Regions from separate parts of the Homo sapiens genome. Here region 2 is linked to region 1. Evidence: fine-mapped expression QTL. A gene starts in region 1. The other region holds a variant in brackets. All regions are shown on one strand. Distances are between the middles of the regions. Region 1 holds the start of CLDN5 (claudin 5). Region 2 has its middle 16 kb from the start of LINC00895.

Region 1 (8,326 bases):
CTCTCCATGCTTTTAAGACTTTCTCTTTAGCACCAGTTTTACGAAATTTGGTTTATGATGTACTTTGGTGGACTTTTTTTTTTTTTTGAGATGGAGTCTTGCTGTGTTGCCCAGGATGGAGTGCAATGGCATGATCTCGGCTCACTGCAACCTCTGCCTCCCAGGTTCAAGGGATTCTCCCACCTCAGCTACCCGAGTAACGGATTACAGGTGCGTGCCACCACGCCCAGCTAATTTTAGTATTTTTAGTAGAGACGGGGTTTCACCGTGTTGGACAGGCTGGTCTCAAACTCCTGACCTCAAGTGATCCGCCCACCTCGGCCTCCTGAATGGAATTACAGGCGTGAGCCACTGCGCTTGGCCTGGCTTGCCATTCTATAGAACCCTTGACCCTTCGTGGATCACACCAGAGCTCCCTGCCCCCCACTCCCTCACCCGCTGGGGAAGTTAAAGCCACAGTGACCTCCAATTCTGACTAACAGCCAGCGATGACTACCCTGAGGGGTGCGGCTGAGGTTGGATGAGCTGTGAAGGCCCTGGGAGCCTGGGTGGATGGCACTCAGGAAAGGCAGAAGAGAACCGGGACTGGCATCGGCCTCCCCTGCAGCCTCGCAGCCTCCACCATTGGGGGGCTTCGTTACCAGTGAGGAACTAAGGCAGAGAGGCCACCTCACTAGTCCAGAAAGTTTCTTGCTTGCGGGAGCGAATCTGACTCCATGCCTGTGTTTAACCACAAAGAGTAACAACAATGCCCGCAAAACCGCCGAGTCTGGCACTGTCCACTCTGGATGCTGCTCACATCGTCACAGCCGCCCAGGGGCCCCACACAGGGTGCCTCGGGCACCTGGTGCAGTGGTCAGGGATGCAGGAGGACCCCAGCTGCTGCTCTCGGCCTGCAGGAGTACTGGCTTGTGTCAAGAAAGAGCACCAGGCCACACTGTGCTTGGAGGCTCTGCAAACATTTGCGGAAATAGAAGGACACATCCTTAACTGTTTCAAAACTGAAAGATAGAAGAAACGCTGTTCTTCACTTCCCCTGAAATCAAATCTGTTAACTAGGAGTTTCCCAAACCCAAATCCCCAGGAATCTTGAGCCTAAATTTAGCTTATCCTTGGAAGGTCACGGGATTACCCTGGGGCAGGGTCAGCCAGCAGCTGCTCAAGATAAACTTGGCTTTTCTGCAGACTCAGGCTCTTCTCACACACAATTAATGAGATCCTGCCATTCTTCCCCTGGGAAAGCAGAACAATGGCTGGGGGTGAGCAGGTGGCCTTGGCCAGTGCTCTGCCCCAAGGGCCCTTTACCAGAGATCAGGGGTTTGTGTCCCTGCCTAACCAGGACACCTCCGATCTCCACCTGCAGGCCCTGGACCACTGTGGCACTGTGGACACAAGGCCGCTTCTGCCCCTTGGACGCCGAGCCCCTTCCCACCTCTGGGATCTTGCACTGGCTATTGCTTCTGCTCTGCCTGGAACTTCTTCCCCGGATCCCTGTGAAATGTCACCTCTTCAGAGAGGCCTTCACCACTGTCTTTCCTGCCCAGTTCTTGGTTGATAGGTTCCTGTCAGCTCCTTCTGGGCAGGAGCTTCTTGTGCTGTGTGCTCTGCCTAGAGACAGTGCTTGCCACGAAGTAGGTGAGCAGACCCTCCATGAGTGGCAGGAAAGGTGGGTGCACCCTCATGCCCCTCCGGAGTCTGGCCTGGGCTACTCAGAGGCCAGCCTCCATCTGAGGTGGGTTTGTCTGGGGTGGCGTCAGCCCCTGCGGCCCTCTCTGGGCCTCTCTGCATTGGCATTGTTCCACTGCAGCCTGGGGCCTCGACCAACATAGTGGGGTCAGGGTAGAAACCAGATTGTGAAAGGTGAAGCCTGAGACTCCTCTGCCACGTCCCTGAGATGCTGTGAGGCTGCCGCCAAAGAAACATGAGCTTGCTGGGGCCACCCTAGGGTGACAGCTAGGAGAGAAGAAAAACAGGCAGCCAGGTGAGAAGGGAGAGCCTTGGGCTGGCTGCAGCTCCAAGCTGGCTAGAGGGCAACAGGCAGCCTCCTGTGCAGGACAGACGCATGAAGACAGCCACCCTGTGGAGGTTATTCCTGGATACTAGGTGGGAAAGTCGGCAAGCAAAAGGACAGGTCCAGCTCAAGCTTCTAAAAGCAATGCTGGGGGACGGTGCAGCAAGGTGTTCCTGGAAATGACCTCGGCAACACATCTTAGAAGATGAGCAGGACCCAACCTGACAGATACACGCTGCGGGCAGAAGAGGCCAAGGTAAGAGACGGCCCATGTGAGGCCCATAGGCAGGTAAGTCTCCTGGGGCAGAGTGTGTGCTCAGGGCCGCACCAAGACTGGTGGCTGGACTGGCCAGTCCTAGCGCATGCAGGTACACATCAATCCAGCTGCTCTGGGAGTCGGCTCTTCGTCCATGGGCAATGTGAGCCATGGAGGGTCTTAGGTAGGGTGAGGCCCAGGAGAGGGGCCTGGTGGGGTGGGTGGCCTAGCTGGGCAAGGGCAGGTCCCTGATGACCTGAGGAGGCCGCAGCAGTCATCCCAGGAAGATGGTGGCATGGAAGGGCTGGGAGTAGGGGGATCTGGGGAAGTTCCCTGGGCTTGGGTTAGGGGGTAGTAAGAGTGAGAGGGTGGGTGGGTCAGCTGTACCCCTGGAGTACACAGAGGAGGAGATGTCCAGGAGGGTCTGTAGAGGAAGGGGCATGGCCCATGGGTCTGCAGCAGGAGGAAGGCAGTGACTAAAGTGATAGCTGGGAGAAGGCAGTGGTCCTCAGAGCCATACCTGGTGGGGAGAGGCCACGTGGGGCTGAGCAAAGAGGGTATGATTTCCTTCCAGCCTCAGGGCTGGGCACACTTGCCTTCAGAACCTCCCCACACTAGGTGAGCCAGACGCTGGCCTTATCTCATTTACCATCTCAGAGCCATCTGAAGGGGGAGAAGGGAACCGGGCCCCAGGAGGGAGAAAGTCATCAAACCTCCCACATCTGTGACCAGCCTCAGTGCCATACTTTTTCTATGGAGGGCCCTGTCCAATGGAACTGAGCACAGACCAGATAAAAGAACTGGGCACCCAGTGGCCTCAGTCCAGGGCCTGGAGTTCAAACTTTACTGGAAACAAAGGGGCCGAGAGAGACTGGGGAAAGAACTACTAGAAAGGGGCTGGTGCCCCCATGGGGCTGTGGGTTTTGGAGCCGCGTGCCCCCACCTGAGCCTCAGGGGGCCCGGAGTGTCCACACCAGTGGACCTTTCGAGAAATGGCTGGGCCATTGTGCAGAAGAATGCCCGGAAATCCCGCGCCTCCCTCCTCCAGCAAGGATGGGGGCTCTTCCTCCTGGCCAGGAAACTCCAAGTTGGCTTCCGGAGGGTGGCCTGGGGGCTGGGGTGCCAGGGACACCATCGCCACTGGTGGGAGGGCAGGGCACAGCCCCTCCGTGTCCCTTTGTCTCTCCTGTCTGAAGGCCAGAGCAGGCTGCTAGGCCTGGGGCCACCACTGCCCCTGGGTGCTACACCCAGTGTGCTGGGTCACTGGGAACTTCCTGAAGTGGTGTCACCTGAACTGGGCCCCCAAGGATGGGGTGCGGGCAGTACCGCAGGAAGAGGAGCAGCCCCTGTGAAGATTGAGAGGTCTGGGAAGCCCCTGCGGCTTGGGAGAGTGGGGGTCGCCAGGCAGGGGGAAAGCCCCTGTGCCACCGCTTTTTGCCAGAGACTCAGGCTCCAGAGAGGCAGTGAGTGGCATGGGGGGTGAGGCTGGGGCCCTGGGCCTGACCTCCACACGCCTGCCTGGCCTCTCTGTTTGCCATGGGATGAGAGAGACAGTGCTGGGACTCAGAGCGGGGCTGGAGAGTGAGAGTGCGAGAAAGGGCCTGGGTGGGGCTTGGACCCCGGGGCGGGCTTTCTGGAGAGCCCCCCTACGAGGGCCTCTACGGCGGTGACGGGGTGGGGGGCTTCTGCAAACCTTGGTCAGGGAAGTGGAGCTGGCTCGAGTGGAAGAGACCACCCGGCTCAGTCGGGGATGTGGGAGTGGACTGGGTGGTGCAGACTGGGGGTCGAGCGCCTTCTGAAGTGACGGGGCCGGGACGCGCAGGGAGGCGGCCCAAGAAGCGCGCCCTAGGCCAGCCCAGAATGCGCTCGGCCGCGACTAGGACAACGGCGGGTGGGGCTGGGGGCGGCTGCCGGGCGGGGAGCGGTCCCGCGCCCTCAGCTACCCCTCAAGAGCCGTTGTTTCCCTAACTTCAGCTGCCAGAGGCTCTGTGATTGGCTGCGGCACGATGACCCGCGCACGGATTGGCTGCTTCGGGCCGGGGGGCCGGGCCCGGGGGACAGAATCCGCCCCCGAACCTTCAAAGAGGGTACCCCCCGGCAGGAGCTGGCAGACCCAGGAGGTGCGACAGACCCGCGGGGCAAACGGACTGGGGCCAAGAGCCGGGAGCGCGGGCGCAAAGGCACCAGGGCCCGCCCAGGGCGCCGCGCAGCACGGCCTTGGGGGTTCTGCGGGCCTTCGGGTGCGCGTCTCGCCTCTAGCCATGGGGTCCGCAGCGTTGGAGATCCTGGGCCTGGTGCTGTGCCTGGTGGGCTGGGGGGGTCTGATCCTGGCGTGCGGGCTGCCCATGTGGCAGGTGACCGCCTTCCTGGACCACAACATCGTGACGGCGCAGACCACCTGGAAGGGGCTGTGGATGTCGTGCGTGGTGCAGAGCACCGGGCACATGCAGTGCAAAGTGTACGACTCGGTGCTGGCTCTGAGCACCGAGGTGCAGGCGGCGCGGGCGCTCACCGTGAGCGCCGTGCTGCTGGCGTTCGTTGCGCTCTTCGTGACCCTGGCGGGCGCGCAGTGCACCACCTGCGTGGCCCCGGGCCCGGCCAAGGCGCGTGTGGCCCTCACGGGAGGCGTGCTCTACCTGTTTTGCGGGCTGCTGGCGCTCGTGCCACTCTGCTGGTTCGCCAACATTGTCGTCCGCGAGTTTTACGACCCGTCTGTGCCCGTGTCGCAGAAGTACGAGCTGGGCGCAGCGCTGTACATCGGCTGGGCGGCCACCGCGCTGCTCATGGTAGGCGGCTGCCTCTTGTGCTGCGGCGCCTGGGTCTGCACCGGCCGTCCCGACCTCAGCTTCCCCGTGAAGTACTCAGCGCCGCGGCGGCCCACGGCCACCGGCGACTACGACAAGAAGAACTACGTCTGAGGGCGCTGGGCACGGCCGGGCCCCTCCTGCCAGCCACGCCTGCGAGGCGTTGGATAAGCCTGGGGAGCCCCGCATGGACCGCGGCTTCCGCCGGGTAGCGCGGCGCGCAGGCTCCTCGGAACGTCCGGCTCTGCGCCCCGACGCGGCTCCTGGATCCGCTCCTGCCTGCGCCCGCAGCTGACCTTCTCCTGCCACTAGCCCGGCCCTGCCCTTAACAGACGGAATGAAGTTTCCTTTTCTGTGCGCGGCGCTGTTTCCATAGGCAGAGCGGGTGTCAGACTGAGGATTTCGCTTCCCCTCCAAGACGCTGGGGGTCTTGGCTGCTGCCTTACTTCCCAGAGGCTCCTGCTGACTTCGGAGGGGCGGATGCAGAGCCCAGGGCCCCCACCGGAAGATGTGTACAGCTGGTCTTTACTCCATCGGCAGGGCCCGAGCCCAGGGACCAGTGACTTGGCCTGGACCTCCCGGTCTCACTCCAGCATCTCCCCAGGCAAGGCTTGTGGGCACCGGAGCTTGAGAGAGGGCGGGAGTGGGAAGGCTAAGAATCTGCTTAGTAAATGGTTTGAACTCTCTCCCACCTGTGTCCTGTTCTCTGTCCAGCCATCTTCCGTGTCCAGCAGCCCCATTCATCACCCACCAGCCCCGCCCTCCCAAGGACTCCTGTGGAGACCTCCTCCCAGGGCTGGAGGCTGGGGCTCTTTTCCCCATCCTCCCTGCCACCTTCCCACCAGGTGGGAGACACAGCCACCACTTACTACAGCCCAGAAAGGCGGGATCTGCGGTCAGAAGAGCTGCTGCGTCATGGGGCCCTGGGGCCCGGGATGGGACAGGGGCGGGGGCAGCGGCAGACCCCAGCAGAAGATGCGGGGTGAAGCGCCCTCAACACAGGCTGGTGAGTGGGGGTCCTGCGGTGTGGGAAGTGCTGGGGGTGAGCAGCCAGGCCGCTGGCTTCTCCCAGAAAGGGCCAAGCCCCACACAGCACAGGGTGAGGTTTTCCACTGCCCTCTCAGGGCTTGCCTAGTCCCAAGCCCCATCAAGTGGCCACAGAGGTCTGTAGAATCCCCGACCAGGCCCTTTCCAATGGTGGGTGGGGCAGGAACAGGGGTGAATGCAGGACACGCCGGTCAACAGTAGGGTTGCCATGGGAGGAGGTGCTGGCAGCTGGTTGCCTGGAGTACCACAGCTTGGCTCTAGCCCCTCGTCCTGGCTCCTCTGCCAGTCCCAGCGCAGCTCCCTACAGAGCCTGTACCCACCCTGCTGGCCTGGCAGCCTGCCCAGAATGGTGCTCACAACCAGCACCTGTGCCAGCCCCTGCTGGGGGCACTCTGGGTAACCTTCCTCCTCCAGGGGCTGTGTGGCCTGGGAGTCAGTGCTGGCCCCTGCCAGGCACCTCGGAATGGGGGTGTCTAGAGCCATCTAACATAGCCACTGAGAGCTCACTGTTTTTAGCCTTGTTCTAGGCACTTTGAATTAACACATTTTTGACATTTGACATAAAGCTAGAAGCAGAAGAGAGCAGCTGATGAAGGGGGCATGCTGCAGGGAAGAGCTCTAAGCCCAGCCGGAAGGGAGACTTGGTATCTGCCCCAAACTGGACTTGGGGGCCCTGCCCAGAAATGTCTGGGCCACATCCAGTGGCAGGGAGTCTCCTAGGTCTGGCCAGGCTACCATCATGGAGCAGTGGGAGAACCCCAAGAATGCAGGCTCAGAGTGGCTTAGGGCAGCTGCTGGAATGTGTGGCAGCTTCCTGGGAGCTGCTGTGGAACCAGCCGGTGGGATGAGTTACAGGGAGAGGGGCCCCACGGTGCAGAGGTCCTCAGCAGGCCTGACCTGTACCCCACCTGGGCCTGTACAACAGGGACCAAGAATAGTCCCCAAGCTTGGGAGTGTGTGATCCCAGAGCTGTGGCCCTGGGCAGAGCCAAAAACAATGGTCCTTACACTCTTGCACCTGGCCACCGGGACTGGGTAGTACCAGGTCTGGTGTGTTTGGTCAGAAGCTGAGGCCCAAGGCTGCCTGGGAGGGCATTCCTAAGAAAGCCTTTTCCTAAGAAAGGACAGGCACGGGGCTGGGCACGGTGGCTCACGCCTGTAATCCCAGCACTTTGGAAGGCCGACGTGGGCGGATCACAGGGTCAGGACATCAAGACCATTCTGGCCAACGTGGTGACACCCGTCTGTACTAAAAATACAAAAATTAGCTGGGCGTGGTGGTGTGTGCCTGTAATCCCAGCTACTCGGGAGGCTGAGACAGGAGAACCACTTGAACTCGGGAGGCAGAGGTTGCAGTGTGCCGAGATCGCACCAACTGCACTCTAGTCTGGTGACAGAGCGAGACTCTGTCTCAAAAAAAGGAAAGAAAGGGCATGGAAAGGAAGCTGCACAGCCTTTGAATTTTCCCAAATGGCCAGGGTAGGCAGCTCAAGGGTCCCGGGAAGCTGTGCAAACCACCAGAGGTGAGGGGAGGGGCCCAGCCTCCAGTCCAGCTCTCACCCTTTTGTGCCCACTGCCCTTTGCCAAGGGCTGCACCAAGACCAGCCCCACCTACCTGTGTGCTCTTTTCCAGGCCACTCTTTCTGAGCTTTTCCCCACTGACTTAAAACCTACCCAAATCACTCCTGCCTTCAAAGACCTGGAAAAGAGTGCTGGATGGTGAGACCCACAGGTGGAGGGATGGCTGAGAGGGTGGACTTGCTATGTGGCTGAGGCCAGGTGGACCAGAGGAAGTGGTAGGTGGACAGAGCCAGGTGCTGGCTGGCACCACCAGGCAGTGGCCGGTGCAGGTGCTATGAGGAGGCGGGGATGCCGAGGGGTCCTGACCTCTGTCCACTGCCACCCGGAGGGCCTGGAGGACAGAGTAAGGAGATCTTGTCCTTGGGGCCAATCCCCATGCTGATTTCCTGCCAGGCACTGAGGGCTCCTGGGGCCCAAGACCCACAGAAGGCTCAGAGCACACTCAAGCACTGGCCTCGAGACCAGAGCCACAATGGGGACGGAGCCTAAAATAAGCATTTTATTTAATAAAAAATGGCTTCTACATCTCAAATCATGTCCATAACTTACAATCTAAATGAAAGCCAGTTACATAAATAAGAAGGTCATTCTGGAAGAATCAAATTCTAGAAAACAAAACAAGAAAAAA
Region 2 (8,326 bases), 58 kb before region 1:
GGTGTCTCCCTGTGTCGCCTAGGCTGGAGTGCAGTGGTGCAATCTCTGCTCACTGCAACCTCTGCCTCTGGGGTTCAAGTGATTCTCATGCCTCAGCCTCCCGAATAGGTGGGATTACAGGTGTGAGCCACCACACCCGGATAATTTTTGTATTTTTAAGTAGAGACGGGGTTTCGCCATGTTGGGCCAGGCTGGTCTTGAACTTCTGACCTCAAGTGATCTGCCCACCTCGGCCTCCCAAAGTGCTGGGATTACAGGCATGAGCCACCATGCCAGGCCTAGAGGGTCTAATTGAACTGGTTAACAAAAGCCACCTATAGACAGCAAAACTAAAAGAGCAAACAGTAGCACATGCCCACTGGGTCCTGGCTGTAAACATTAACCCCTAGACATTGCCCTGGGGCCGGAGCCCCACAGCCTGCCCATCTGTATGCTCCCCTAGCGGTTTGAGCAGTGGGGCACTGAAGAAGCGAACCACACCCCCATCGCCTGCCCTGCGAGGGGGACACGGGAACTTTTCCTGTTTCAGCACCACTGCACTCCAGCCTGGGCAATAGAGGGAGACTCTGTCTCAAAACAAAAACAAAAACAAAAACAAAACACAAAAAAACACAACTGGGTGCGGTGGCTCATGCCTGTAATCCCAGCACTTTGGGCCAAGGCAGGCAGATTGCTTGTGCCCAGGAGTTAGACAGCAGTCTTGGCAACATAACAAAACCCCATCTCTACAAAAAATACAAAAATTAGCTGGGTGTGGTGGCATGAGTGTGTAGTCTCAGCTACTCAGGAGGCTGAGGTAGGAGGATTGTTTGAGCCCAGGAGGTACGTGTTGCAGTGAGCTCAGGTCACACCACTGCAATCCAGCCTGGGTGACAGAATGAGACCCTGCCTCAAAAAAAAAGAAAAAGAAAAGAAAAGTTAAAAAAAGAAATTTTGTTTTTAGGAAGTGGATGCACATGATGAAAAAATTCAAAAGCTACAAAAGAGTGAAAGTAATGATAGATCTTTACAAAAATCCTGGATGCATTTATTTATAAGCATGTATGTAAATAGATCCTTTAACAGTGGTAGCACTCTCCTATTCACAACAGCAAAGATATGGAATCAAACTGTGTCCACTGACAGATGAAGAAATAAAGAAAATGTGAGATAGATATATATATATATATATATATATATATATAAATATATATATAATGGAATTCTATTCAGCCATAAGATGAATGAAATCGTCATTTGCAGCAGCATGGATGGAACCGATGATCATAACGTTAAGTGAAATAGGCCAAGCACAGAAAGACAGCTACCATATGTTCTCACTCATATGTGGGAGCTAAAAAGTTGATGTCATGGAGGGAGAGAATAGAATGATAGATACCAGAGGCTGGGAAGCATGTGTGGGTGGGAGGAGGATAAAGAGAAGTTGGCTAATGGGTACAAACATATGGTTAGGTAGAAGAAATAAGCCCTAACATTCCATAGCAGGGTAGTAGGGTATCTGTAGCTGGCAACAATGTATTGCATATTTCAGAGCAGCTAGAAGAGAGGACTTGAAATGCTACTGATGCAGGGCAGGTTCTTGGCTTCCTCAGGAAGGAATTCAAGAGCAAGCTGGTAGTGGAAGAAAACAGCTTTCTTGCGGTGGAGGCAGTGCTATAGCTCTGGCTGGCTGCCCCTGCAGAGCAGAGCTACCCCATAGGCAGTGTGCTGAGGGTCGCAGCCTAGGGGCAGTTTTGCAGTCATATCTTATACCCACTTTTAGTGCCATGCTAATTAAGGGGCAGGTTATTCAGAAACAGCTAGAAAATGGGTGGTAAGTTTTGGGTGTTGCTATGGCAATAGTAAACTGTCATGGCACTGGTGGGCATGTCTTATGGAGAGGTCCTTTGTGCACTTCTTCCTAGTTTTGGCCAGTCCTCAATCTGGTCCGGAGTTGAGTCTCGCCTGCCTCCTACCTCATTACAAACACTTAGAAATAAATACTCAAGGCCGGGCACGGTGGCTCACACCTGTAATCCCAGCACTTTGGGAGGCCGAGGCAGGCAGATCACGAGGTCAGGAGATCAACACCATCCTGGTTAACACAGTGAAACCCCGTCTCTACTAAAAAATACAAAAAAAAAAAAAAAAATTAGCCGGGCGTGGTGGCGGGCGCCTGTAGTCCCAGCTACTCGGGAGGCTGAGGCAGGAGAATGGCGTGAACCCGGGAGGCAGAGCTTGCATTGAGCCAAGATCGTGCCACTGCACTCCAGCCTGGGTGACAGAGCAAGACTCCCTCTCAAAAAAAAAAAAAAAAGAAAAAAGAAAGAAACACTCAAGGTGATGGATACCTCAGATACTCTCAGTTGATCATTACATATTCTGTAATGTGTAATGTAACAACTACTCCATGTACCACATAAACATGTAAAAATTTATCAATAAAAAGTAGCAACTTATATGCACTATTCTGTATCTTCTGTAGCTCCCTATTCTTTCTGATATAAACTATGGTTATTTCAGAAAATGCAGAATAACTACACTGTACATCAGTGTTTTACCTCAGTTAAAGGATTTTTAAAAATCAATATTATTGATGTACAGCTTGCATACGAGAGAGTGCACACATCTTAAGTATACAGCTTAGGCCGGGCATGGTGGCTCACGCCTGTAATCCCAGCACTTTGGGAGGCCGAGGTGGGCAGATCATGAGGTCAGGAGATCGAGACCATCCTGGCTAACATGGTGAAACCCCGTCTCTACTAAAAATACAAAAACAAAATTAGCCGGGTGTGGTGGCCCATGCCTGTAGTCCCAGCTATTTGGGAGCCTCAGGCAGGAGAATGGCGTGAACCCGGGAGGCGGAGCTTGCAGTGAGCCAAGACGTGCCACTGCACTCCATCCTGGGTGACAGAGTGAGACTCTGTCTCAAAAAAAAAAATAAAAGTATACAGCTCAATGCATGTAGACAAATGTGTATACCTGTGTAAGTAACCATCATCACAGTCAAAACCAAGAACATCCCATCACTCCAGAAGCTTCCCTCATGACTCCTCCTGGTCACACCAGGACCCAGGGAACCACCCATCTGTGTTCCATCATTCTAGATGAGATCTGTCCTTTCTAGAGTTTTCTATAAAAGGAATCACAGTGCATACTGTTTTGTCCAGCTTCTTTCATTCAACATAAGTCCTGTGAGATTCATCCACTTGTTGTACCATCAGTTTTCTGCTCTTTATTGATAGTGTTTTCCTACTTTTTTTGTGTTAATATGGAGGATTATATTGATTTTTAAATGTTAAGCTGATGTTGCATTACTGGGATAAACTCTACTTGTCCATGGCCTATCCTTTTTTTTGTTGCTAGATTCAACTGACTTTTTTTTTTTTCAGACAGGGTCTCACTCTGACACCCATGCTGGAGTGCAGTGACGCGATCTCTGCTCACTGCAGCCTTGACCTCCCAGGCTTCAGTGATCCTCCCACCTCAGCCTCCCAAGCAGCTGGGACCACAGGTGTACACCACCACACATGGCTAATTTTTTGGATTTTTTGTAGAGTCAGGGTTTCACCACGTTGCCCAGGCTGGTCTTCATCTCCTGAGCTCAAGCGATCTGCCTGCCTCGGCCTCCCAAAGTGCTGGGATTACAGTCGTGAGCCACTGTGCCCAACTCAATTGGCTAGTTTTTGTCGTTGTTGTTGTTTTTTTTTTTTTGTCATGATGGAGTTTTGTTCTTGTCGCCCAGGCTAGAGTGCAATGGCGTGATCTCGGCTTACTACAACATCCACCTCCCGGGTTCAAGCAATTCTTCTGCTTTAGCCTACCAAGTAGCCGGGATTACAGGTATGCACCACCACACCTTGCTAATTTTTGTATTTTTGGTAGAGACAGGTTTTTGCCATGTTGGCCAAGCTGATCTCAAACTCCTGACCTCAAGTGATCTGCCTACCTTGGCCTCCCAAAGTGCTGGGATTACAGGTGTGAGCCACCGCACCCAGGCAGTATTCTGCATTCTTAAACTGATTTTCTGCCTCCTTGTTCTGTCATTTACTGAGAGAGAAGTGTGGAAATCTCTAGCTATAACTGCGCATTTGTCTATTTGTTCTCTTGGTTCTGTCAGTTTTTGCTCTGTATTGGGTGCATACATATTTAGGATCATAATGTCTTCTTGATGACTTGACCACTTTATCCGCATAAAACAGTCCTCCCTATCTCTAGGAACAGTCCTGTTCTGAGTCTGCTTTGCCGGATGCCATTCCAGTATTCTCATAACTCACGTTCAC[A/G]TGATCTTGTTCCATTCCTTTACTAACTCCTGCATTTTTAATTGTGGTAAAATATACACAGCACAAAAGGATCCTTTTTTTTGAGACGGAGTCTCACTCTGTCACCAGGCTGGAGTGCAGTGGTGCCATCTCGGCTCACCGCAACCTCCGACTCCCTGGTTCAAGCGATTTTCCTGCCTCAGCCCCCGAGTAGCGGGGATTACAGGCACGTGCCACCATGCCCAGCTAATTTTTGTATGTTTAGTAGAGATGGGGTTCACCATGTTGGCCAGGCTGGTCTTGATCTCTTGACCTCGCGATCCATCTGCCTCGGCCTCCTAAAGTTCTGGGATTACAGGCATGAGCCACCGCGCCTGGCCAAAAGGATCATTTTAATCATTTTAATTGTACAGTTCTGTGGCAGTAAGCACATTCACAATGTTGTACAACCATCAGTATCATCCATCTCCAGAACTTTGTTGTCATCCCAAACTGTAAGTCTATACTAATTCAATAATAACTTCCCATTCCCTGCTTCCCCACCCTCTGGTAACCACTATTCTAATTTCTGTCTCTATGAATTTGATTACCTTATATAAGAGATACCTCATATAAGTGAAATCAGACAATATTTGTCTTTTTGTGACTGGCTTATTTCACCGGGCATGGCTTCAACATTCATCCATGTAGTAACATGTGTCAGAATTCCTTCTTCTTTTTTTTTTTTTGAGACAGAATCTTGCTCTGTCACCCAGGCTGGAGTGCAGTAGCATGATCTTGGCTTGCTGCAACCTCTGCCTCCTGGGTTCAAGCAATTCTCTGCCTCAGCCTCCTGAGTAGCTGGGATTACAGGCACCTGCCACCACACCCAGCTAATTTTTGTATTTTTAGTAGAGACAGGGTTTCACCATCTTGGCCAGGCTGGTCTTGAACTCCTGACCTCGTGATCCACCCGCCTCGGCCTCCCAAAGTGCTGGGATTACACACATGAGCCACCGTGACCGGCCAGAGTTCCTTCTTTAAGGCTGGATAATATTCCATTGTCCATGTCTGTAGACCACATTGCTTATCCATTTATCTGTCGGTGCATGTTTGAATTGTTTCTACCTTTTAGCTAGCGTGAATGATGCTGCTGTGAACATCGATGCACAAGTGTCTTGAGTCCCTGCTTTCAATTCTTTTCAGTGCATGCCTATTCTGGGCGTGGAATTCCTAGACCACACGGTAATTCTGATTCACTTTTTTTTTTTTTTTTTTTGAGACGGAGTCTTGCTCTTTAGCCCAGGCTGGACTGCAGTGGCGCTATCTCGGCTCACTGCAAACTCCACCTCCCGGGTTCACGCCATTCTCCTGCCTCAGCCTCCCGAGTAGCTGGGACTACAGGCGCCCACCACCACGCCCAGCTAATTTTTTTATTTTTAGTAGAAATGGGGTTTCACCGTGTTAGCCAGGATGGTCTTGATCTCCGGACCTCGTGATCTGCCCACCTCGGCCTCCCAAAGTGCTGGGATTACAGGCGTGAGCCACCGCGCCTGGCCTCTGATTCACTTTTTGAGGAAATACCAAACTTTTCCACGGTGGCAGCACCATTTTACATTCCCACCAACAGTAAACCAACGTTCAATTTCTCCACATCTTCACGTTCTTTACATCCTTGCCAATGCTTTTATTTTCTGTTGTTGGTTTTGCTTGGCTTTTTTTGATAATAGCCATCCTAATGCCTGTGATTTGCATTTCCCTAATAACCAGTGATGTTGGGCATCTTTTCATGTACTTCTTGGCCACTTGTATGTCTTCTTTGGAGAAATGTCTATTCAAGTCCTCTGTCTATTTCTTATTTTTTGTTGTTGAGTAAAGTTATGACTTTTCAAAACGTATTTTACCTTGATTTGTTTTGCCACCTATGATGTTTTATTTTGAACTTTAGAAGTGGAAAGAAACTAATAAGTCATATTTAAAGCCATGTTGTTCTTCCAGTCAGCACCATAATTCTTAACAAGAAAACTTGACATTTCATTTAAGTGATTAAATGTATAGAGGTTGGAGATTTGCATTTTCCTCTATAATCCATATAATAATCCATGGAAAATCTTTTCCAATAGTTAACAATGCAGCAGAAAACAGCCCATACATAACGACAAAATGAAAACTCCCAGATCATTTGCATCCTGCCAGAATCTTAGCTTCCCTCGCATTACTGCTATTCATGACCTCAAGCCACACGTTCTTATAAGGATGTGACCCCAACTTTGATAGTAAATGAATGGTTATCAGATCGAGGTCTCTCTCTTCCTCTCACAGCTTCAAAACAGTGACAGGAAATGGGAAAAGGGAAAACACCTCAGAGTTTGCAAACGGGTGACTGTGTGCCTCAGCAGCACAGGAAGGAAATGACCACGGGACACCTGTGCAGTGGCTAGAGCCAGGCCGGCCTCATTCGATGTCATGTGACGGGTGGAGATGGGGGAGCTGTGACAGCGGCAAGCACATCCCGGCCAGGCCCGGGAGAACATGGGCTCCACCAGCTCACCCCCTCCACAGCCTTTCCTTCAGAAGCCTCGCTGTGGACACAGACTGAAACAGGCCGTGTGGTGGTGGGAGGGGTGTCATTATATTATTCTATTTGTGTGTACATTTGTGTGTTTTCATAATGAAGTTGGTATTTTTAAAAAAGAAGCCTCTCCTCCCTTTTTTCTCCTTGGTATTTTAAACCATCCAAATATTAAGAATGCTCTCTAAAGACAATCAAAACAGCAAGCATCTCAACAGTAATAACTTCACCCCACTGAGCTGAATTAGGCCAGCAAAGGTCTCAGAAATGAACTCTCTACCTTCGTTCACTCAACACATCTTTGACCTTTGGGAAAGTACCCCGTGCCAGTGTGCCAGGCCCTCTTTTACCTCCAAAGAGCAGTGGAGACTGGGCGTCCTACTGGGCAGTAGATGTGGGCAGAGCCCCACAAAGAGCAGAGTCTGGCAAGGGGGGTCCAGGCCAGCTGGGGCAGAGGCCTTGCAGGCACTGGGACAGACTGTGGCCTGCACACAGGGAAATGGGACCCTGCCTGCACACAGGGCTGACTCACCACACACCAGCCACAGTTTGCTATATGACCAGAGGGTAAAGAGAGACCCCACCCAACTGGGGCCTTCAGGCACCAACTAGAGGACAGGAAGAACCCAGCTGGAGGCCCTCTTGCCTCAGCCAACAGGCGCCAGTGGTGAGCACAAGGAAGACAGAACACAGGCCATCCCCAGGGTGGGGACAAGGAGGAGGAAGCTCAGCCTCCAGCCCCAGGGACAGGGCCCCTTGAGACCCCAGGAGGGAGTGACCTAGTCTCAGGGTCCCTTTTCTTCCCAATTCCAGCAGTGTCAGAACTGCCAGGTACAAGAAAGAGCCACGCAGTCCTCTGGGCAGCAGAAACCCGAGGCTCAGTGAGAGCAGTGACCCAGGAGAGCCAGCTTTCCACGCGCAGGCTGGAGCCACTCGCTCCTTCTGGCCACACATAAGTTACTGAGCATCTGCTCACCAACAGCTTCCTTTTGTTAGGAAGTGTGGAAGTGGCATCTGAGCAGACTTGGGGGAAGTGAGTGGGTGTGGGGCCTGTTCCAGACCCAGAGAGCACCCAGTGCAAAGGCCCTGTGGCAGGAGCATGCCTGGTCTCCTGGGGACCGAGCGGCCAGGGTGTGGAGAGCGGCAGCAGGCAGCACAGGCCATGGCCACTTTGGGACCTTTGACTGTGAACAGAAGCCACAGCATGGTGTGGAGCAGAGGAGCAACATAATCTAGAGAGGTGGTTTTTTGTTTTTGGTTTTGGTTTTTTTTTTTTTTTAAGAGACAGGGTCTCATCTGTCACACAGATTGGAGTGCAGTGGTGCAATCATGGCTCACTGCAGCCTCGAACTCCTGGGCTCAAGCAATCCCCTCCTGCTTCAGCATTCCCAGCAGCTGGGACCCCAGGCACGCACCACCACACCCGGATATTTTTTAAATTTTTTGTAGAGACCGAGTCTTACTATGTTGCCTAGGCTGGTCCCAAACCGCTGGCCTCAAGCCATCCTCCTGCCTCAGCCTCCTGGCTACACAG

Evidence for each region.
Region 2: its variant is fine-mapped to the expression of CLDN5 in whole blood (TOPMed, PIP above 0.99).

The regions. Positions count from the first base shown.
Region 1 is chr22:19,520,458-19,528,783 of GRCh38, reverse strand. CLDN5 (claudin 5) reads left to right here and starts at 4,374. Exons shown (of 1, transcript NM_001363066.2): 1 at 4,374-5,757. The coding sequence starts at 4,529. The coding sequence ends at 5,185. CDC45 (cell division cycle 45) reads right to left here. Exons shown (of 19, transcript NM_003504.5): 19 at 8,176-8,303. RefSeq lists an enhancer at 5,759-6,691.
Region 2 is chr22:19,578,402-19,586,727 of GRCh38, reverse strand. No RefSeq gene overlaps it. Among named protein-coding and RNA genes, the nearest start is that of LINC00895, 16 kb to the right of the region's middle. The variant A/G (reference allele first, on the strand shown) is at 4,263.